3 linked regions of the Homo sapiens genome follow. The protein of the gene in region 1 purifies or fractionates together with the protein of each later gene. This does not show direct contact. Each region holds a gene or a part of one and is shown in the gene's direction. Other genes may lie near its edges. The genes, in order: PON1, SFXN5 and RDH13.

Region 1 (7,107 bases):
AAACAAGTCAGTTTAACTAAGCAGTGTGCTTAGTGATGTATTTGATTTATAATGTTATCTCATGGTGAGCTATAACAAACAATTTGCAAACCAACATTGGTCTGGAGACTGCATTTTGGGTAGCATTGGTATATACATGAAATATCTATATCCATCCACATATATGCCCTTTCTCATCTTGTGTCATCATCAAGGATTTTAGAGTCCGTAACATATGCTTAGAGAAAGCAACAGGGGCCAGGTGTGGTGGTTCATGCCTGTAATCCTAGCACTTCGGGAGGCCAAGGTGGGTGGATCACCTGAGGTCATAGACCAGCCTGGCCATCATGGCGAAACCCCATCTCTACTAAAAATACAAAAATTAGCCAGGCGTGGTGGCGCACTCCTGTAATCCCAGCTACCAGGGAGGCCAGGCAGGAGAATTGCTTGAACCTGGGAGGTGGAGGTTGCAGTGAGCTGAGATTGCACCACTGCACTCCAGCGTGGGTGACAGAGCAAGACTCTGTTTTTTTTTAAAAAAAAAAAAAAGAAAGAAAGAAAGAAAAGAAAAAGCAAGCAAGCAAGCAAGTGAGAGCAACAGGGACAGGGACAGCTTTTAATTATTCATATCATAGACCAGTTTTCAAAAAATAGAAGATAATTGAGCAGTAATTTCTTTTTTTTGTTGGGGGGATGCACAGTGCTTAGACTAACCCCAGATCTTTGTGGGGTATGACTAAAGCCACAGGGTCAGGACCACACTCAGGGCAGAAGAGGAGGAAGACTTCTCTTGATCCAAGCCAAGCAGCTTTTCTTCTCTCATATTTTCTCTGGATTAAAACAAGGGGCTGTTGTCCAAGGGCTTTCCTGCAACTTTCCCGAGAGAGAACTCACTAGCCCCTGAAATGCAGAACCTGGGCCTTGACACTAAATTGTCAAACCAAAAGAGAAACGCTGTAATGCATTTTACTCCCAGATACTAAAAGTTAGTGTTAGGGCTAAGTTCCTCCCATACTGATAAGGACAACTATGTCCCCTCCTTCAGAAACAACTTTTCAGAGATTAAACCCCTCTGTCACTGTAAACTCACTGAGTTCTTTCAGAATTTGGTGTGTTTGAGGTGGGTTCCATTTTCCATTCCTTAAGCAAAGTTCTTCCCTATGAATAGGTATTACAACTTCATCTTAATCTCTCAAGTTGTGTTACTTCTAGTACTTTGATGTAGCTCTTTCTTCTTTGAAGGTATGTCTATATAGCTGAGTTGCTGGCTCATAAGATTCATGTGTATGAAAAGCATGCTAATTGGACTTTAACTCCATTGAAGGTAAGACGTATTAACACTGTAAGTCTGCAGAGTGATAATTAGATTCTAATTGATTTGTGAAATTAAATGTGAAGAAAAAAGGACTGCTTAATTGGGGTGGGTGAGAACCAATTTTTCACTCCTTTATTAAGAGTCATTAGCTTGGTTATGTGTTTGTTGTTCATTTTTACTCAACTGCAGAGTGGCAAACAGCAAACCCCACCTCTTACCCGTGAACCTTGCATTCTTTCTGCTCTAGCAAATTTTAAGCTTGGCATTGTGTTCCCAGATCCTCCTTCCATCCCTCCCTTCCTGCCTTTCTTCTGATCTCCCTCTCCTCCACCTTCCTTCCCTCTCCTCCCTTTTCTTTCTCTTTTTTCCTCTATGTTGATGGAACAGCCAAGAAATAGCCTCAAATTGTACTTTATGCAGGGCTGCTCTCCACAATGTTTATGAAGTCCACGTGCTCACGATGGCTGCTAGGTGACCTGGCTGCCCCTCACCTCTCTGCCTTTACCTCCAACCATTGTGTCCCTGCCCCACGTCTCCTGCCACTGTCTCAGAACGGGGCACCATTCCCTCTGCTAGGAGGAGAAACCTTCCTCCAGATCTCCATGACCCCCTCCTTCATCTCCTTTCATTTTTACTAAAACGTCACCTCGATCTTCAAAACCTGGAACTGCTCCCTCCCGCTACGTATTTTCCCTCGCCTTTCCTGCTTTATTTTTCCATTCAGCACGTATTGCTAACATACTATATATTTTATTCATACCCTTTATTACCTGATTCCCCAACTAGGGTGTAAGCTCCACAAGGACAGGCTGTTTTTCTATTTGCTTCTGGTACAATTCACATTGACTAGTTGGCACTTAACAAATACTTGTTAAATTACTGCGGTGGGGCTGGGCATGCTTCAGGGATTCACCTGCTGCCCCCACCAATTCTGGTCATCTGAAGGTTGGAGTCAAAATGGGTGAAAACACAAAGGAGAGGAAAAAGAGACCAAGAGCAAACTAGAGCCCTAAGAAAGCAGCCCTCTACCTCCGAAAAACAGCAAGACGTTGCTTTCCTGCCATAAACGCCCACTGCAGGAAGCACTGTCAGCGCCAATTGTATGACTGTTCCTGTCAGCACATCTGAGAGACTGTCATGAGGGGCCTCACTCAGAGAAAATTACCTTAAAGCAACATCAAATGTAACATCGTGTTTGACATTAAAAATCACTGGCAGGGCTAGTTTGGTATTAGCTCAAGTAAAATGGAATTTCACACGCTCATACTGGCTAAGGGAATAAAAAACAAGCTGCGGTTTTAACAACAGGTATTTCTGTAAAACAAAAGTTAAAGAATTTTATGAGAATAGAACCCAATGTAACAGACATTCACCACAGAATGTCAAGGCTCTGCTCTCACCAGGGTGAGACTGAGGGCAAGGCCAGTTTCAGCAACAGACCAGGCCTGTCTCCCATCATGAAAACCCCAAAAAGGTTCTCCATCAATTGTCACATTATTCTTTCTTTTGAAAGACCGTATTAATTAATATCAGTTAATTAATGCCCGAGAGTGCCAAGTAATTTGATAAACTAGCTGAGGCTATTCTTAAATTTGTGATGAGGTGTGGATGGGTTTATGTCCAATTGGATATTGTTCAGCCTTAAAAAGGAATGAAGTTCTTGGCCGGGTGCGGTGGCTCACACCTGTAATCCCAGCACTGTGGGAGGCTGAGGTGGGTGGATCACGAGGTCAAGAGTTCAAGACCAGCCTGGCCAATATGGTGAAACCCCGTCTCTACTAAAGGTACAAAAAATTAGCCAGACATGGTGGCACATGCCTATAATCCCAGCTACCTGGGAGACTGAGGCAGGAGAATCACTTGAACCTGGGAGGCGGAGGTTGCAGTGAGCTGAGATCACACCATTGTACTCCAGTCTGGGCAACAAGAGCAAAACGCCATCTAAAAAAAAAAAAAAAAAAAAAAAGGAATGAAGTTCTGATACCTGCTACAACATGGATAAGCCTTGAAAAACATGATGCTAAATGACATAAGCCAGCAACAAAAGGATAAATATTGTACGATTTACTAATAGGAAGTACCTAGAACAGGCAAATTCATGGAGACAGAAAATAGAATAGAATGGTGATTGCTAGGAACTTGGGGGAGAGAAGAATAGGGAGCTATTGTTTAATGGGTACAGGATTTCTATTTGGGGCTGATTAAAAGTTCTGGAGAGGGATGGTGATGATGGTTGCACAACATTGTGAATATACTTAATGCCACTGAGTTTTACACTTAAAAATGGTTAAAATGTCAAATTTTTATATATTTTACCACGATAGAAATAATTCTCTCCTCTCTCCAAAAAAAGATTCCAGGACTTAGTCAATGAATTAGTCACACTTCAATGAACCTCAATGCGCAAAAACCTGGAATATTTGTTAACAGAGAATACTCTGTTTTTCCCAAAGAGAATAATTTATTATGTTTTCTTGACCAAGGAATGCGAATTTTTCGAGTTGCCTTTGTGGGAGTGTGAGATGTGATACGCAGGGGTCTTGCATGAGTTAGCATGGAGAGGAATTATTTATTTGCAAGGCAAAGAGTTCATTGCTGGACTCAGAACAGGCTCCCTGCTAGACTGTCAGCACTTCCATGGCATGAGCTGTGTCTGCTGGGTACCTGGTGCTCTCCAGGTGTTGCGTTCCTTGCAGAGCTCATGTAGGAGCTCAGTAATTGTGTCTTGAATGAATGGGACCCCAGGTTTCTGTGTCCTTCTCCCACTCCCACTCTCATCTCAGGTTTCATCTGCCGTGGAATTCACCAATTGGCTGTACTGCTTCCAAAGATAAGAGCAAAGCCCTGAAACAAACATTTTCCTCATTCAAAGACATTATGGTATCAGAGTGGTGTGCTGACACTGGGATGGACAGGGGTTTAGGGATGGAGAAAGCAAGCATGGAGCCGCCTGTCTTGCCTGTCTCTGGGGTAAGAAAGACTGATGGCTCTGCATGGTGGCGAGACTGAGGCTCTGCCATGATGCTTGAGCCCTCTAATCCCTCCTTGGGCATGTGAGGAACAGCTCTCATTTTGAGTAGGAGGCACAGGGAAACGTTGGTTTTCTGCAGCTGTCTGCTTATGCCCTGGCTTTTTCAATGAGTCATGACCAGTTATTTACAGGTTCTCTGGGCACTGAGGTATGCTGGCCTCTGAGGTACATGGTAGATATTATTTCTCCAACTGAGAATTAGAGGTAAACAAATAGATGGGATTTCTCCCCAGTAGAAGGCAGCCAAGATGATGAATGGTGGAATTAAGAATCATTGGTATTATTTATGATCCTTGTACAAAGCCTCGACAGCAATCTGTGCAGTCATCAAATGCTTGCAACTTATATTTAGAGAATAAACAGCAGAAGAACGGGGAGTTGAACAACATCAGGAAACTAAAGAACAAACTTTTCCTCAACTACAAGGCAAAAATGAGACCCTGGGTGATCATTTCTTCTCTGGCTGCACAGCCTATGATTAGCCATTAAAGAGTCCACATTTCATTGATATTCTTCTGAGAAAGAATCTACATTTCCTGGTTGTTTTCTGAATGCTTATAAAAATATCATTACCACATGCCATTTTAGAAGGAGATGTTTTATGATGCACCGAAAACTTCTTTTTTTTTTCAGTTTTAGGTTCATGCACAGATGTTGGTACAAATGATTTTGTCTAACTTTTAACAGTCTTTCTTGGCTTTCTGTATCTTCACCCTACCCAATTCTGCCCTGGAAACTGACAAAATACTAGCATAGATGAAAGGTCAGAGAAATTTTGTGAGTCTTATTGAAATGGGGCAGAATTGTATCCTTGGAAGCAGCAGCGTGGTGACCAAGGACAAGAGGCAACTTTTCTCTGATATATTTTGCTCCATCACAATTGTGTTTTACTTTATGTCTTGTTCTTTTCTTGTTTTTAATCTTTTAAGTCCCTTGACTTTAATACCCTCGTGGATAACATATCTGTGGATCCTGAGACAGGAGACCTTTGGGTTGGATGCCATCCCAATGGCATGAAAATCTTCTTCTATGACTCAGAGAATCCTCCTGCATCAGAGGTAAGTTTTAAAAATGAACCAGATAAGTGACTTTATTCCCAGCTACTGTTTTTTCAGTTGACAACATAATTCTCAATTCTTGGTTTTTTTTTTTTTTTTTTTTTTTTTGTGACAGAGTATCGCTCTGTCGCCCAGGCTGGAGTGCAGTGGCGCAATCTTGGCTCACTGCAAGCTCCGCCTCCCGGGTTCACACCATTCTCCTGCCTCAGCCTCCCAAGTAGTTGGGACCACAGGCGCATGCCACCATGCCTGGCTAATTTTTTGTATTTTTTTTTTTTTTTAGTAGAGACAGGGTTTCATCCTGTTGGCCAGGATGGTCTTGATCTGCTGACCTTGTGATCCACCCGCCTCGGCCTCCCAAAGTGCCGGGATTACAGGCGTGAGCCACCGTGCCCGGCCAATTCTCAATTCTATGTGCAAATAAAAGGGGGGACATGGATAGATGATCCAAATGATCAGAAATGAAGGCTTTTGGAGGTGCTTTAGTCAGAGTCTAGGCAAGAAACACATGGCACACTTAAATTGGATAATTTGAGGGGAGTTTAATCAACGGACTATACACAAAATGTGTGGACACAGTGTAGGGTAATCAACAGAGTTATAATGCAGTACCCCAGGGCTAGCAAGGGAGGGAGGAAATGAATACCAGAAGCCAGAACAGGTAGACGGTGGTGGGTGGAGAGGGTTGCCTGACAGGAACTTGGCCTCTGGTTAAGGGATCCTCAAAGAACATAATGATGCCATACTGCTATGGTTTAATCATTCATTACCTGCCTTCCTATTCAACTCCCCCTTCCTGTGTGGCGGTATACGCACAGGTCCATGCAATGGACCAGTCCTGGAGCACACTGGCCAGCCTCTCTAGATCTTCCTGCAGGTGGCAAGATAAATAGCTGGAATTATTCTGGCTTAGAAGATCTCATCTTCCACCTTAGTTACAGTACTCAAAGGTCCCATTTTTTGTCCACGGTCTTTATTCAGTGAACTATTTTGGGTACAAGTAAGAATTTGCAACCTACTTCAATATAGGTATTTGCACATTTACTGAGTTTTCAGTATCTACTAAGGATACTTATTACTTACATCATATATATGATATCATCTTGACATATTTGTCTACTGCTGTGTATTGTTAAAGCTCAGTTTTAAGAGTCCATTTCACCTGCCCAACAGGAAAAAAAAAAGTGTTAAAGCCCGTATCTCTTGGGTTAAAAAAAAAAGAAACAAATGTGTATTTCCATTTACATTATGGCTCTCTTACCTTTTATCTCTAGGTTTGCAGGACAATTGTGATCATGTTTAATGGCAACCCTTTGTGCCTTTTGCTAGTTTTTAGCTATTAGGGTTGCTGAATGGTATGTTTAATAGAATTGAAGAAATGTATGCTGTGGAGTGTTCAGTGCTCAGAACTGAGCAGAATGTTAGATTCTAATTTGTTCTTGCTTGTTAGCTCATTTAGTAACCTTGGGTCATTTGCTATAGCATGGACTTGGTTTGTTGTTCTGGAGAAAATACTTCATTTCTAATGATTGATCTGCAAAGGAGTAGCAAAAAGTAGTAACAATTCCTTATCCAATGCACTGCCCCTAGATGAGTGATTTAGTTTTATTAACAAGAAGCTTAGCTAAGCCAAGGTGTACCATCAACTATTTCCCTGTAACTACTACATGTTAATGCTATGGCAACTTCCTAAGACATCTGTCTTTGGTGCCAGCTGTTTTTAA
Region 2 (7,107 bases), on another chromosome or scaffold:
CTATGGACTTTGCAGAAGTGGGGGCTGTGCCTGTCTTTACTCCCTGTTGACTCTCCAAGGCTCAGCACAGTGCCTGGCAGTTAAGAGGTGCTTAATGAAGATTTGTTATATACATGAATATCCTGGAGACAATTCAGTAGGGCTTTGCGGACTTGAATTAAATTGACTTGTAAGGTTGTGACTGGGGAGGTGGACCAACTTTTCTCCAAATTGTCCCTTAGGGATCTTACAAAATTGCAAGTGGTGTCATGTTTGACAGTGTAAGGTTCATCAGTGCTGAGACATCCCAGAGTTGGGGTGTCTCTAAGGAGGTGAGTCTAAAGACACAAAGGTTGGCTACATATGTACTGGGTTGATGAGCTCCTTTAGGGCCCAGCCCACATCTCTGTGTCCTGCCCTGGCATGTAATAGTTGTGTAATATATATGCTCATAGTACCTTGTGCTGGCCTGACAGAAGCCTGCTTCAAGGTGGTTGATAATCCAGGGTTCATTCCCAGCACCCATGCCAGGGACATGACCCTTATTCCCCAATTAATCTCACCGCTTTCTGCAGGATTTGTTACCAAGGTCTTTCCTTATTCCCTGGAGTCGCTCTAGAACTCCTCTTTATTCCCTCAAGTGTCTCCCTGTGCAAGAGGACGGGCAGAAAGAGGGTGGAGGGTGTGGAGGGTCAGAGTGTGAAGAAAGGGTGATGAGTGTTGGTGGTCTGTGACCATCTTTCTCCCCATAAGATGGTGACGATAGCCAAGCATCATTCCAGCCTTTTTGTGTATTGACTTACTGAATTTTCACAACAACCCTGTGAAGCAGGTGCAATGATCTCCAATTTATGGGTAAGAAAACTACAGCACACAAACAGATTAAGTAAATTCCCAGGCAGTCTGTCTCCAGAGTTCATGTTTGTTTGTTGGTTTGTTGTCAACTTTTTATTATGGAAGTTTACAAACATACTAATCTGGAGACAGTTGTCAGTAAACCCCTATGCACCCATCATCCAGCTTCAACAGTTGCCAACTTAAAGCCGGCCTTGTTTCATCTATGCACCCACCCCCCACAACCCAATCAATGAATTACTCTGAAGCAAAGGCCAAACATCCCATCATTTCATTGAACCCACTAGTAGGTATCTCTAAAAAATAAGGACTCTTTGGTTAGCTTTTTAAAAATTTTTTTATTTTGGAATAATTTTAGAGAAGTCAAAAGACAACAAACAATTCCTGCCTAGCCCTCACCCATTGTCCTCTGTTATCATCTTGCATTGCCACAGTACATTTTTCAAAACTAAGAAACTAACATTGGTACATTATCGTTAACTACACTCCAGACTTCATTGAATTTTACTACTTTTTTTTACACTAATGTCTCCTTTCTGTCCCAGGATCCCATCCAGGAACATGTTACATTTAGTCATCATGTCTCTTTAGCCTCCTCTGGTCTGCGGCAGTCATAGTACCTGGGATAGTTTCTCAGACTTTGCTTGTTTTTGATGACCTTGACAATTTTGGAAGATATTTTATAGAGTGTCCCTCAACTTGGGTTGCCTAATGTCTTTCTTTTGGGTTTTGAGGTAAGAATATCACAGAGGTGAAATGCTCTCTTTATCACATGATATTGGAGGGTTTTTTGATTTGTTTAACATAACCATGTCCTTAACACACCTAAAATCATTATTTGTTTTTTCTTTTTTTTTAGAGACAGGGTTTCTGTCTGTCACCCACAATAGAGTACAGTGGAACAGTAATTAATGGCTCACTGCAGCCTTGAGCGCCTGGGCTCAAGCAATCCTCTGGCCTCTACCTCCAGAGTAGCTGGAACTACAGGGGTGTGCCACCATGCGTGGCTATATGTATTTTTTGTTTGTTTGTTTTCTTTCTGTTTTTTCTTTTCTTTTCTTTTTTTTTGTAGAGACAGGTGTCTTGCTATTTTGCTGAGGCTGGTATCAAACCCCTGGCCTCTAATGATTGTTCTGCCTGGCCCTCCCAAAGTGCTGGGATTTACAGGCATGAGCCACCATGCCTGGCCCATTAATTCTTAATATCATCAAGTAACCAGTCGCTATTCATATTTCCCTGACCATCACTTAATTTATTTGTAGTTGATTTGTTTGAATCAGGATCCCATAAGTCCCACATATTATTACCTTTGGGTATTTCTCTTTTGTATCTTTTATTTTTTTTTTTTGGAGACAGAGTCTCTCTCTGTCGCCCAGGCTGGAGTGCAGTGGCATGATGTCAGCTCACTGCAACCTCCGCCTCCCGGGTTCAAGTGATTCTCCTGCCTTAGCCTCCTGAGTAGCTGGGATTACGGGCGCATGCCACCATGCCTTGCTAATTTTTGTATTTTTAGTAGAGATGGGGTTTCACCATGTTGGCCAGGCTGGTCTCAAACTCCTGACCTCAGGTGATCCACCCGCCTCGGCCTCCCAAAGTGCTGGGGTTACAGGCGTGAGCTACCACACCCGGCCTCTTTTGTATCTTTTAATCTGTTAGTTCTGTCTTCCTTTTTTCCCTTCCTATTGAAGAAGCAGTTGTTCGTCCCTGTAGAATTCCCCACCTTCTCAATGTTGCTGATGGCATCTCTGTGGTAGTGGTTAGCATGTTCCTTTATCCCTTGTTTCTCCTGTAAACTTAAAGTCTATGCATTTAACCACTACTCCAGCTGCCTAGTGAAAGGGAGGAGATGACAGCACAGCACCCAGGGAACCTCTGAGACCTGCTTTGCTTCCTTTCCTCTTCCTTTTCTGGTCATTTCCTCTCCTGAACTCACTGTTTTTCCTTCCGGCCCAGACACCATGTTTGCCATGTTGGGGCCCCAGGACAGGAAACAAACACACATACTTTCTCCCATTTGTGTTTCAGTCCATCTGTAAATAAATTGTTGTCCAGGACCAGGCGCGGTGGCTCATGCTTGTAATCCCAGCACTTTGGGAGGCTAAGGCGGGCAGATCACTTGATGACAGGAGTTCGAGATCAGCCTGGCCAACATGGTGAAACCTGTCTCTACTAAAAAATACAAAAAATAGCCCTTCAAGATTCCCCCACATGGCCAGGCACAGTGACTCATGCCTGTAATCCCAGCACTCTGGGAGGCCAAGGCGGGCAGATCACTTGAGGTCAGGAGTTCAAGACCAGCCTGGCCAACATGGCAAAACCCTGTCTCTACAAAATACAAAAATTATGTGAGCATGGTGGCAGGCGCCTATAATCCCAGCTACTCAGGACTGAAGCAGGAGAATTGCTTGAACCCGGGAGGCAGAGGTTGCAGTGAGCCGAGATTGCACCATTGCACTCCAGCCTGGGCAACAAGAGCGAAACTCTATCTCAAAAAAAAAAATTGTTGTCCAGGTGCAGTTGGCTCATGCCTGTAATCCCAGCACTTCGAGAGGCCAAGGCAGGAGGATTGCTTGAGGCCAGGAGCTTGAGACCAGCCTGGACAACATAGTGAGACCCCATGTCTACAAAAAATTGAAAAACTAGCTCGGCGTGGTAGCATGCACCTGTAGTCCCAGCTACTTGGGAGGCTGGGGCAGGAGGATCCCTTGAGTCCAGAAGTCTGAGGCTGCAGTGAGCTATGATCACACAACTGCACTCCAGCTGGGCAACAGAGTGAGACCCTGTCTCAGAAAGAAGGGAAGAAGTTTTTTAACAACTTCTGGCGAGGTGTGGTGGCTCATGCTTGTAATGCCAGCACTTTGAGAGGCCAAGGTGGGCAGATTGCTTGATCCCAGAAGTTTGAGACCAGTCCAGGCAACATGGCGAAACCCCGTCTCTACAAAAAATATAAAAATTATCCAGGTGTGGTGACACATGCTTGTAGTCCCAGCCACTCTAGAGGGTGAGGTGGGAGAATCACCCGAGTCCAGGAAGTGGAGGTTGTAGTGAGCTATGATCGTGCCACTGCACTCCAGCCTGGGTGACAAAGTGAGACTGTGTCTCAAAAATAAAACAAAAATTCCTTGCTCCTTTGGAAGTCTCACTTATCTGCTGAGATGACTGGGGGTATGAGTGTGCTGGGGACCAAGGCCTAGTGGGGCAGAGCAGGCTGGTTGCACAGGGCTCCCTCTGGGGTATGGAGAGCTTGCTGGGCAGACAAATGCTTTCTTCACTTCAAGGTTGGGAGATTTGTGTGGGCTGAGAGTTGGGAGGCAGGGGGGATATGTCTCATAGTTTGCTTGAAATAAAGTTCTAAAATCACAGTACCTTGCAGGTGGTTATATATTTTAATCATTTACTTCCTATAGGCGAGACAGTGAGTTTTTTCTAGTGCTGCTCCTGGGCTGGTTTGTGCAGTGGAGAGGGGTCATAATTTCCAAGAGTCACACTGGGCAGGTTTTAAAATAGACACTGATGCCTGGAGGCCACACCCAGAGCAATAGAATCAGAATCCCTGGGTGTATGGCCTGGTTTTTGAAGTACCCAGGTGGTTCAGGGTGCAGCTGATTCAGGACTACTGGGCTGGCCCAGCCTTTCTGCTTTGGGCTGTAGGTTCAGCGAGTATATTATTCCTAATCGAAGAGCAGTAATTTGGAGGTCTGGTGTGTGTAGTTGCGGGGCGGTGTCAGCTTCTTCTGGGATCTTTGCCCTCTGCTGCTGCTCCCAAGGCCTGCTCTTCCCTGGGGGGCTTGCAGATGGGAGAGAGCTGGCTGGTGGAGGTGGGAAGGCAGCTGCTGCTGTAGGCCCTGGCTCCTGCTGAGAATTAGCTGACTCACCTTTCTTATGAAGGGAAAGAGAAGGAATCACTTGGCTGACTCATTCTTCCAGTAAAGAAAAAGGGGAGGAAAAACATCCACCGATTGTGCGATTGGGTAAAGATGGGAGCTGAATTTGGGAGGGAGGCTATACATTTTGAACTATTGAGAAAATAAAAATGAACTGAGACTGAGAAAGTATAACCTTCCTTGCCATTCATCAGACAGGGAGGACAGACACAGAGCCAGCTGCAAAGAAAGAATGTTTCTCACGAGGACCCACAGGATCTATAAAGTATCGAACAACCTTCTTCCAGTAACCACCTCTTTCATACTCATGTCTCACTCTATAAGGTCCTAGACTGCCAGGAACTTTGCTGTTTAAGTCATATCATTAGGAATGAACCATCTACCTCTTGATTGGCAGGTCTAAGTCACTTTGCCTCGGAGAATCAACCCATAGCTGCAAATAAGGGGTTTCTGGTCACAACGTTTCTCATTAATCTTAACTTTATAGTTTTTAAGGAAACAAGACCCTGAGTGGTTGGTCCAGACCTATGATGACTCCTTTTCACACAGTCTTGCTTTGCTTGGAGCCTATTGAAGCACTGCTTCATTTACATTTTACTCTATCTTCCTTAAATTATATACCAAATATTTTTCTTTGTTTGGCAAGGCACCCCATAATTCCTCTGCTGTGGTGCTTTTCTTTGTTGAGTGAGTCAGTAAATCTGACTTGGTCAGACTATAGGTTTGTCTCTATAGTGGGTGGGGTGGGGGTCTTAGGGCAATCTGTACCTGACATTTCCAATTCAGAGTCTCTTTCTTGAATCTCAGTCCAAATGTTTGCTGAAAAATTATATCTGGAAGTCCCTTTAAATATCTCAGACTGATATGACCAATACAGAGTTTTTATCTTCTTTCCACTTAATCAGTATGCTTCTTCCTGTCCCTATTCTGGTTAACAAACATTCATGTCTCACTAGAAAGTGAGGCATCATCTGTGGCTGCTCTTCCTCATTTCCCCACAGTCGGTCAGCCTTGCTACCTCCAGGACCTAGCACAGTGCTGGGCACACAGTAGATCCTCGGTAGTGGGTTGAATGATGAATGAATGAAGAGACCACAGGAGTCTGGTGCAGCTTCTGATCCTAAGCTTTATGCTTTCATCCTCTTGCATATACCCTCCTCTGCTAGGTAAACTCATCCATCCCTTGGTCCCAGCTCCTCTGGGACACCTCCTTGACTTAAACTAGGAAGACATAGGAAGAACTCTGTGTGTCCCCAGTATACTTCGCGATGCTTCATTTAAACTCTGATCAGTGTTTTGTAGTTACTTGTTTATAGTTATTAGTCTGTTTTGATGGGCTGTGAGCTCTTTGAGGGCTTGTTCATTTGGTGTCTGTCCCCTGAGCCTAGCTCATTAGGAGTTTGTAGGTGTCTGTGGAGCAAAATGCCTTATCTGGGAGTCTCCCCCAGTAGCTATGGTCGAAAGTGACACAAGAAGGCTGGCAGGGCTGGGACAGGATGAAGACCGTGCCAGACCATAGGACAAGTCAAAGGCTGAAGTTTCTGCTGGACCATCTTCAAGAAGTTGCTTCACTCAGGCCATTCTACTTCCAGGTTCTCTCCTCTTCCCCTGCTCATCCTCTTTCCTCCTTGGACCACTAGCTGCCATACTGTTACCCTTTCCTAATCCTGCCCTCCCTTCAAAGCCCAGCCCAGCTCTACCCCACCCAGAAGCCTTGAGGCCATTGGCTGCTCATCAGCCCACTCATGGATTCCTGTGGCAGAAGACCCTTCCTTCCAGATATGTAAGGAGACTTCGAGCCAGGGAGGATAAGGAAGGAACATTCAATAGCCCATGTCCTTCAGGAGCTCTTAATCAAGTATAATACTTAAAATATCAGTTCATGTTTTACTTTATTTTATTTTTGGAGACAGGCTCTCACTCTGTCACCCAGGCTGGAGTGCAGTGGCATGATCATAGCTCACTGCAGCCTCGAACTCCTGGGCTGAAGTGGTCCTCCTACCTCAGCCTCCTAAGTAGCTGGGACTACAGGTGTATACCACCATGCCTGGCTAATTTTTAAAATTTTTTGTAGAGATGGGGTTTCACTGTGTTGCCCAGGCTGATCTCAAACTCCTGGGCTCAAGTGATCCTATCACTTCAGCCTCCCAAGTAGCTGGGATTATAGGAGCAAGCCACTGTGACTGGCTTGCATTTTACTCTAAATATGTATTTTTAAATGTAATATCATTTCTGTATATTAGGTATAATATTGATTTTTTTAATTTCAAAAGCAATTTAAAGATCTGGAAATATAAATCATACATAAGCCTATTACCCAGAGGCAATCTCTATTAGCATTTTAGTATATTTTCATCTAGCTTTTTTGAAAATATAATTTTTACCTTTT
Region 3 (7,638 bases), on another chromosome or scaffold:
AAAAGAAGAAATTCTAAAACATGTATCTGCCCGTGACATGACCCTCCTTGGCTCAACACTCTTCAGCGGTACCCAGCGCCCTCTGAGTCAACGCCAAGCTTCCTACCATGGCATTGGAGCCGCGCTCTGGGTCCTTTTACTGATGGCTCCCGCCTCAGCCCTTCCACCCCCTCCCATACCCTGCATGCCAGCCCAGGCAGCCCTCCCTCCTCCCACAATATCTCTCATATGCATTCCTGTCCCATGCCTTCTGCTTAAGCTGTTCCCACAGCCCGGAGTCTCCTCCCTGGCTGAGGGAAATCTTGCCGGCTCACATGGCCGTGATCCCCATCATTTCCTGCAGAAAGCTTGCCCAGCTCTCCGACACGGGGACCTTCTGCCCCTCCTGAGCCCTGAGTCCCCTCCATCTTAACTGGGAGGTCACCTGTTTGCGTGGTGTCTGCTCAGCTTGCAGGCAAGGCCACCAACACCCTCCTTTCCTGTCTTTCCTTCCTACCATCCTCTCCTGTCCACCCTCTGCCTCTCCCTCCCTTCTTCTCTTCTTTCCTTCTAGTTACTGAGCCATGCATGTGTTGCATGCAGCAAGGATGAATAAAATAAAATAAACCTACAGCAATCATTCCAGTTACTATGGCCATATAACAAATTATTCTAAAACTCAGTGGCTTCAGACAAGGATCATATCTATTTTACTCAAAAACCTACCATCTGCACAGGCCTTGGTGGAGGCAGCTTATCTGTGTGCCCTTTGGTGATGGCTGGGGCTGTCAAGAAGCTGGGGCAGTGCTTGGGCTGCAAAGACTCAAATGGCTGGAGTCTGGGACCACTGGAGCTCCTTGCCCCCCTTTGCTTATCTCTACACAGCCACAGGGTCGCTAAACTTACCTTACACTGCTGAGGCCTCTTAAGATGTGTGTAGGGAAAGAGAGTTGGGGGGAGAGGGAGAGAGAGAACAGAGAGAGAGAGACACACACAAGAAGAGAGAGAGGAAGAAAGAAGGAGAGAGAGGAAGAGGAAGGGAGAGGAAGAGAGAGAGAAAGAGAAAGAGGGAGAGAGAGAGGAGAGAAAGAGACAAGAAGAGAGGAAGAAAAAAGAGGAAGAGAGGGATAGAGGAAGACAGAAGGAGGGAGAGGGAGAGAGGAAGAGAGAGGAAAGAGAAAGGAAGGGAAAGAGAGATGTGAGAGAGAGGGAGAGAGAGAGAGAAAAGAGGACAGAGGAAGAGAGAGAGGAAGAGAGAGGGAGAGAGAGGGAGAGAAGACAGAGAGGGAGAGAGGAAGAGAAAAGGAGACAGAGAGAGGAGAGATAGAGAAGAACGAGAAAGGAGAGACAGAATGTGAATGAGAATTGGGTGCCATAAACCCTCTGATGGGGAAAGCAAAGGGCATTGTGGGAGAATCCTCTCAGCACCTGGGACAGCACCCAGTGCTGATCAGGAACATGTTAACAACCAGGAAAATGGTAAAGGCGTGGACAGCCCACCTGGAGTCCAAACAGATGTTCTAACTCCCTTGGGTGTGTCTGGGAATCAGGTAGGAGATCCTCAGAGGAGGAATATGCATGCATTGTTCTCTTTATAATAACCATATTAACAGCCAGCAATGTTCTGGCACTTACTATGGATTAAGTCCTTGTTATGAATGACTTCATGCCATCCTTCCAAATTCAATGACAGGTAGCTGGGCGCAGTGGCTCACGCTTTGTAATCCCAGCACTTTGGGAGGCTGAGGCAGGTGGATCACCTGAAGCCTGGAGTTCAAAACCAGCCTGGCCAACATGGTGAAACCCCGTCTCTACTAAAAATACAAAAATCAGCCAGGTGTGGCGGCGAGCGCCTGTAATCCCAGCTACTCATGAGGCTGAGGCAGGAGAATCGCTTGAACCCAGGAGGCAGAGGTTGCAGTGAGCTGAGATTGCATCACTGCGCTCCAGCCTGGGCATCGGAGAGAGACTCTCAAACAGGAGCTGGCGAACTGTGGCGCACTGCTTATTTTTATAAATAAAGTTTTATGGGAACACAGCTGTGCTCACTTGTTTTCACATCATCTGTGGCTGCTTCCCAGCTCCTCTGGCAGAGGAGGTGCAACAGCCACTGTGTGGATCACAAAGCTGAAATTATTTACTATCTGGCTGTTTGTAGAAAAAGTTTGCTGATCTCTGTCCTGGAAGTCAATGATATTAGGATTTCAGTTTACAGAAAAGGAGAAAAAGACAGGGAAAAACAGTGTTGTTTTTTTTTCAAGGTTGAGAAAATGAACATCTGAACCAATTGCCCATGTTATTAAATGTAAACATTTATTATTATTATTTTTGAGATGGGGTCTTGCTCTGTCACCCAGCCTGGGGTGCAGTGGCACAATCACAGCTCATCATAGCCTTGACCTCCTGGGCTCAAGCAGACCTCCCACCTCAGCCTCCCAAGTAGCTGAGGGTGCAGATGCGTGCCACCAAACCTGCTAATTTTTGTATTTTTTGTAGAGATAAGGTTTTGCCGTGTTGTCCAGGCCGCTCTCAAACTCCTGGGCTCATACTATTCTCCACTTTGGCCTCCCAAAGTGCTGGGATTACAGGCATGAGCCACCATGCCCAGTCTAAAATTTTTCTTTATTTTTAGTTTGGTAAACTATGCATAAAGTAAAATGTACCATCTTAACCATTTTAAGTGTACAATTCAGTGATGTTAAGTATATTCACATTGTTGTGCAACCATCACCACCGTCCACCTTCAGGTCTTTTTTTTATTTTGCAAAACAAACTCTGTATCTATTAAAAAACAGCTTCCCGGCCGGGTGCGGTGGCTCATGCCTGTAATCCCAGCACTTTGGGTGGCCGAGGCAGGTGGATCACCTGAGGTCAGGAGTTTGAGACCAACCTGGCCAACATGGTGAAACCCCGTCTCTACTAAAAATACAAAAATTAGCCGGGTGTGGTGACACGTGCCTGTAGCCCCAGCTACTCGGGAGGCTGAGGCAGGAGAATCGCTTGAACCTAGGAGGCAGAGGTTGCAGTGAGCTGAGATCGCCCACTGCTCTCCAGCCTGGGTGACACAGTGAGACTGTCTCTCAAAAAACAAAACAAAACAAACAAACAAACAAAAACAAATCCTGTGACTTCCCAATCTCATCTCCAGCCCCCTGCAGCCACCACTCTGTTTTCTGTCTCTATGAATTTGACTCCTCCAAGTGCCTCTTATACAGCATTTGGCATTGTGTAACTGGTTTAATACGTTTGAGATGGTGAGAGCTTAAGGTCTACAGGCCTAAGGTTTTTTTTTTTTTGACAGAATTTCACTCTGTCGCCAGGCTGGAATGCAGTAGGGCAATCTCGGCTCACTGCAACCTCCACCTCCCGAGTTCAAGTGATGCTCCTGCTTCGGCCTCCTGAGTAGCTGGGACTACAGGTGAGTGCCACCACATCCAGCTAATTTTTGTATTTTTAGTAGAGACAGGGTTTCACCATGTTGGCCAGGCTGGTATCAATCTCCTGACCTCGTGATCCATCTGTCTCGGCCTCCCAAAGTGCTGGGATTACAGGCGTGAGCCACCGTGCCCGGCCATTGACTAAGGTCTTAAAATAGCTCTTCCTGCCTGTATAATCTCCATTATGGCAGGGCTCATATAAGAAGATGACAGTTCATCTGATGAGGAAGAAAACTTACTCCTAGTTAGATTGGGTTGAATTCTTCCCTGTTTCCAGCGGTGTCTGCTCCTGGCACCTCAGGCACAGTCAGGGGTAGGAGGTGGTGATCAGATACACTCGCTGTGAGCAGTGCAAGGGGAAGCAGGTGCCCAGAGGTGCATCCCGGTTTGGTGGGGGTGACAAACATGGACAGGTAAGTGCAGGAGTGTGTGCAATACTCAATCTAAGAAAGGTAGTTCAGGCAGAGTTCAGGGAAGATATCTCTGTGCAGGGCCAGACATGGGGATGAGATTCTGATAATTTGGGAATGAATCAGGCCCCCAGCCCCTCCTCCCTCAGACTCAGCAGTCCAGGCACCCGGCCCTCCTCCCTCGGACCCAGAAGTCCATGCTCCCAGCCCCTCCTCCCTTGGACCCAGGAGTCCAGGCCCCCAGCCCCTCCTCCCTCAGACCCAGGAGTCCAGGCCCCCAGCCGCCTTCTCCTGCAGGACCCCAGGAGCTTGGGTACCCACAGGCTACTAGATCCTTGTTTCTGTGCATGGAAATTCTCAAATTATCTCCAAAAGTCTATGAAGAAGGTAAACACACATTTCCAGATGAGGGAATAGGCTGATATAGTTGAAAGACACACAGAGGGTCACAGTCTGGAATTGACAGTGGTGGGATTCGAACCTATTTCACTCCAGAACTGCGTAGCGCCTTATACGCTGCGGCAAGTGTGACGTCATTCGAACAAACCATAGGCCCCGCCCCCGGACTAGCCACGCCCACAGGCTCCTGAAACCACCAATCCCAGCTGTGACAGCGCTCAGGACCGATGCTCATAGGTCCCGTCCCTAGGATCCCCGCCCCCTCCGCCCGCGCCCCGCCCCTCGCAGCCCAGTTCCGGACGCGGGCCCAGCCGCGCCTGCGCCTCCGCTCGCCTGTGGCTGCGTCGCGCGCTCTTCCTCGGAGCTACCCAGGCGGCTGGTGTGCAGCAAGCTCCGCGCCGACCCCTGACGCCTGACGCCTGTCCCCGGCCCGGCATGAGCCGCTACCTGCTGCCGCTGTCGGCGCTGGGCACGGTAGCAGGCGCCGCCGTGCTGCTCAAGTGAGTACATTCTAGCCCCGCGTGCGCGGTCAAGGCGGGCCCCCAGCGCAGGGGCCGGGAAGGCGGCGGAGACCCCCGCCCCTCGCACCCGGGTCCAGGCCCCGTAGCTCCCGACCCGCAGTGCCCGCCCGGAGTGGGGCAAACCTGCGCTCTGGCCGGCCAGGTCACCGGCCCAAGGTCACTCGGAGGGAAGGGCGAGCCTGGGCCCTTGTAAATGTTGCTTTCCTTCCAGACTTTTAAACTCTTTATTTTGTTGTTTTGTATTATTTATTTGTTCGTTTATTTTTAAAGGCAGAATCTGGCTCTGTCGCCCAGGCTGGAGTGCAGTGGCGCGATCTTGGCTCACTGCAGCCTTGACCTCCTGGGCTCAGGTGATCCTCCCACCTTGGCGTCCCCAGGAGCTGAGATCACACGTGCGCCACCACGCCCGGCTAATTTTTGTATTTTTCGCAGAGACGGGGTTTTGCCATGTTGGCCAGGCTGGTCTCAAACACCTGCCCTCAGGTGATCCGCCTGCCTCGGCCTCCAAAGTGCTGGGATTACAGACGTGAGCCACCTCGCCCAGCCTACTTAATTTAAACTTTCTTAAAAATTAGCCTCTGTGGCTGGTGGCCACTGTATTGCATGGTGCCCTTCTCTCCTGTGGGTGCAGTGCTGTTTACCTGCTCAGCCTCCTGTTGCTGGACACTATCTTGTTGCCAGCGTTAGCCTCTGTGGGACATGGGTGTGGTGGGCAGAGTCGTGACTCCGTAGAGGGGTCCACGTCCTAATCCTCGGAAGGTGTGACGACATTACCTCACGTGTCAGAGGTTCTCGCTGATGTGTTAAGTGAAGCATCTTTTTTTTTTTTGAGACAGAGTTTCGCTGTTGTTGCCCAGGCTGGAGTGCAATGGCACGACCTCGGCTCACCACAACCTCCACCTCCCGGGTTCAAGCGATTGTCCGGCCTCAGCCTCCTGAGTAGCTGGGATTACAGGCATGTGCCACCACGCCTGTCTAATTTTGTATTTTTAGTAGAGACGAGGTTTCTCCATGTTGGTCAGGCTGGTCTTGAGCTCCCGACCAAAGGGGATCTGGCCACCTTGGCCTCCCAAAGTGCTGGGGTTACAGGCGTGAGCCACCGTGCCCGGCCAAGTGAAGGATCTTATGATTATCATGTAGTCTTTTTTTTTTTTTGGAGACAGGGTCTCTCTGTCACCCAGGCTGGAGTGCAGTCATGCTGTCACAGCTCACTGCAGCCTCACCCTCCCTGGGCTCAGGTGGTCCTCCCACTTCAGCCTCCCGAGTAGCTGACTCTACAGGCGTGCACCACCAAGCCCTGCTAATTTTTGTATTTTTAGTAGAGATGGGGTGTCAGCATGTTGGCCATGGCTGGTCTCGAACTCCTGACCTCAAGTGATCCTCCTGTCTTGGCCTCCCAAAGTGCTGGGATTACAGGTGTGAGGCACTGTGCCGGTCCTGCCTTGTAGTCTTATAGGGTCCTTATAAGAGGGAGCAGGAGGCTCAGTCAGAGGGGAGATGGAAGATAGAAGGAGAGGTTGTTGGGTGTGGTGGCTCACGCCTGTAATCGCAGCACTTTGGGAGGCCAAGGCAGGCGGATCACAAGGTCAGGAGTTCGAGACCAGCCTGACCAACGTGGTAAAACTCTGTCTCTACTAAAAATACAAAAGAAATTAGCCAGGTGTGGTGGCATGTGCCTGTAATCCCAGCCACTCAGGAGGCTAAGGCAGGAGAATCGCTTGAACCTGTGAGGCGAAGGTTACAGTGAGCTGAGATTGAGCCACTGCACTCCAGCCTGGGCGACAGAGCGAGACTCTGTCTCAAAAATAAATAAGTAAATAAATAAATAAATAAAGGAGAGGTTCCAGTGAGGATGCAGGTTGAAGATGGAGGCGGGGCCAAGAGTGGAGGAATGTGGCGGTCTGTAGGAGCTGGAAGTGGATTCTTCCCTAGAGCCTCCAGAAGGAACCTGACTCTACCAATACCTTGATTTATTCCAGTGAGACATGTTTTGGACTCTTGACCTGCCGAACTGGAGGAGGATGCACTTATGTGGTTTTAAGCCACTAAGTCTGTGGTAATGCGTACAGCAGCCTTGGGAATCTCGTGCAGCGGGCATTTTAAATTTAAATTTAAATTTTTTTGAGACAGAGTCTCGCTCTGTTGCCCAGGCTGGCACCATTTCGACTCACTGCAACCTCCGCCTTCCAGGTTCAAGCAATTCTCGTGCCTCAGCCCCCTGAGTAGCTGAGATTACAGGTGTGCACCACCACGCCTGTGAAGGGGTGGCCTGCCCCTCCACACCTGTGGGTATTTCTAGTTGGGTGGGACGAGAGACTGAGAAAAGAAATAAGACACAAAGTATAGAGAAACAACAGTGGGCCCAGGGGACCGGCGCTCAGCATACCAAGGACCTGCACCGGCACCGGCCTCTGAGTTCCCTCAGTTTTTACTGATTATTATCTTCATTATTTCAGCAAAAAGGAATGTAGTAGGAGAGCAGGGTGATAATGAGGTCAGCAAAAACCATGTGAGCAAAAGAATCTATGACATAATTAAGTTCAAGGGAAGGTACTATGCCTGGACGTGCACGTAGGCCAGATTGATGTTTCTCTCCACCCAAACATCTCAGCGGAGTAAAGAATAACAAGGCAGCATTGCTGTAAACATGTCTCGCCTCCCGCCATAGGGCGGCTTTTCTCCTGTCTCAGAATTGAACAAATGTACAATCAGGTTTTATACCGAGACATTCAGTTCCCAGGGTCAGGCAGGAGACAGTGGCCTTCCTCTCTCTCAACTGCAAGAGGCTTTCCTCTTTTACCAATCCACCTCAGCACAGACCCTTTACGGGTGTTGGGCTGGGGGACGGTCAGGTCTTTCTCATCCCACGAGGCCATATTTCAGACTATCCCA

What was found.
Region 2: the proteins of PON1 (region 1) and SFXN5 purify together in Homo sapiens (affinity purification with mass spectrometry; 2 studies listed by BioGRID and IntAct, with this or other methods). This does not show direct contact.
Region 3: the proteins of PON1 (region 1) and RDH13 purify together in Homo sapiens (affinity purification with mass spectrometry; 2 studies listed by BioGRID and IntAct, with this or other methods). This does not show direct contact.

The regions. Positions count from the first base shown.
Region 1 is NC_000007.14:95,300,481-95,307,587, reverse strand, and holds part of PON1 (serum paraoxonase/arylesterase 1), read left to right. Parts: intron 1-1,221; coding exon 1,222-1,303; intron 1,304-5,254; coding exon 5,255-5,383; intron 5,384-7,107. UniProt on the Homo sapiens protein: Hydrolyzes the toxic metabolites of a variety of organophosphorus insecticides. Capable of hydrolyzing a broad spectrum of organophosphate substrates and lactones, and a number of aromatic carboxylic acid esters.
Region 2 is NC_000002.12:73,061,634-73,068,740, reverse strand, and holds part of SFXN5 (sideroflexin-5), read left to right. Parts: intron 1-7,107. UniProt on the Homo sapiens protein: Mitochondrial amino-acid transporter. Transports citrate. Does not act as a serine transporter: not able to mediate transport of serine into mitochondria.
Region 3 is NC_000019.10:55,060,055-55,067,692, reverse strand, and holds the start of RDH13 (retinol dehydrogenase 13 isoform 1 precursor), read left to right. Parts: upstream 1-4,544; 5' UTR 4,545-4,660; coding exon 4,661-4,725; intron 4,726-7,638. UniProt on the Homo sapiens protein: Retinol dehydrogenase with a clear preference for NADP. Oxidizes all-trans-retinol, but seems to reduce all-trans-retinal with much higher efficiency. Has no activity toward steroids.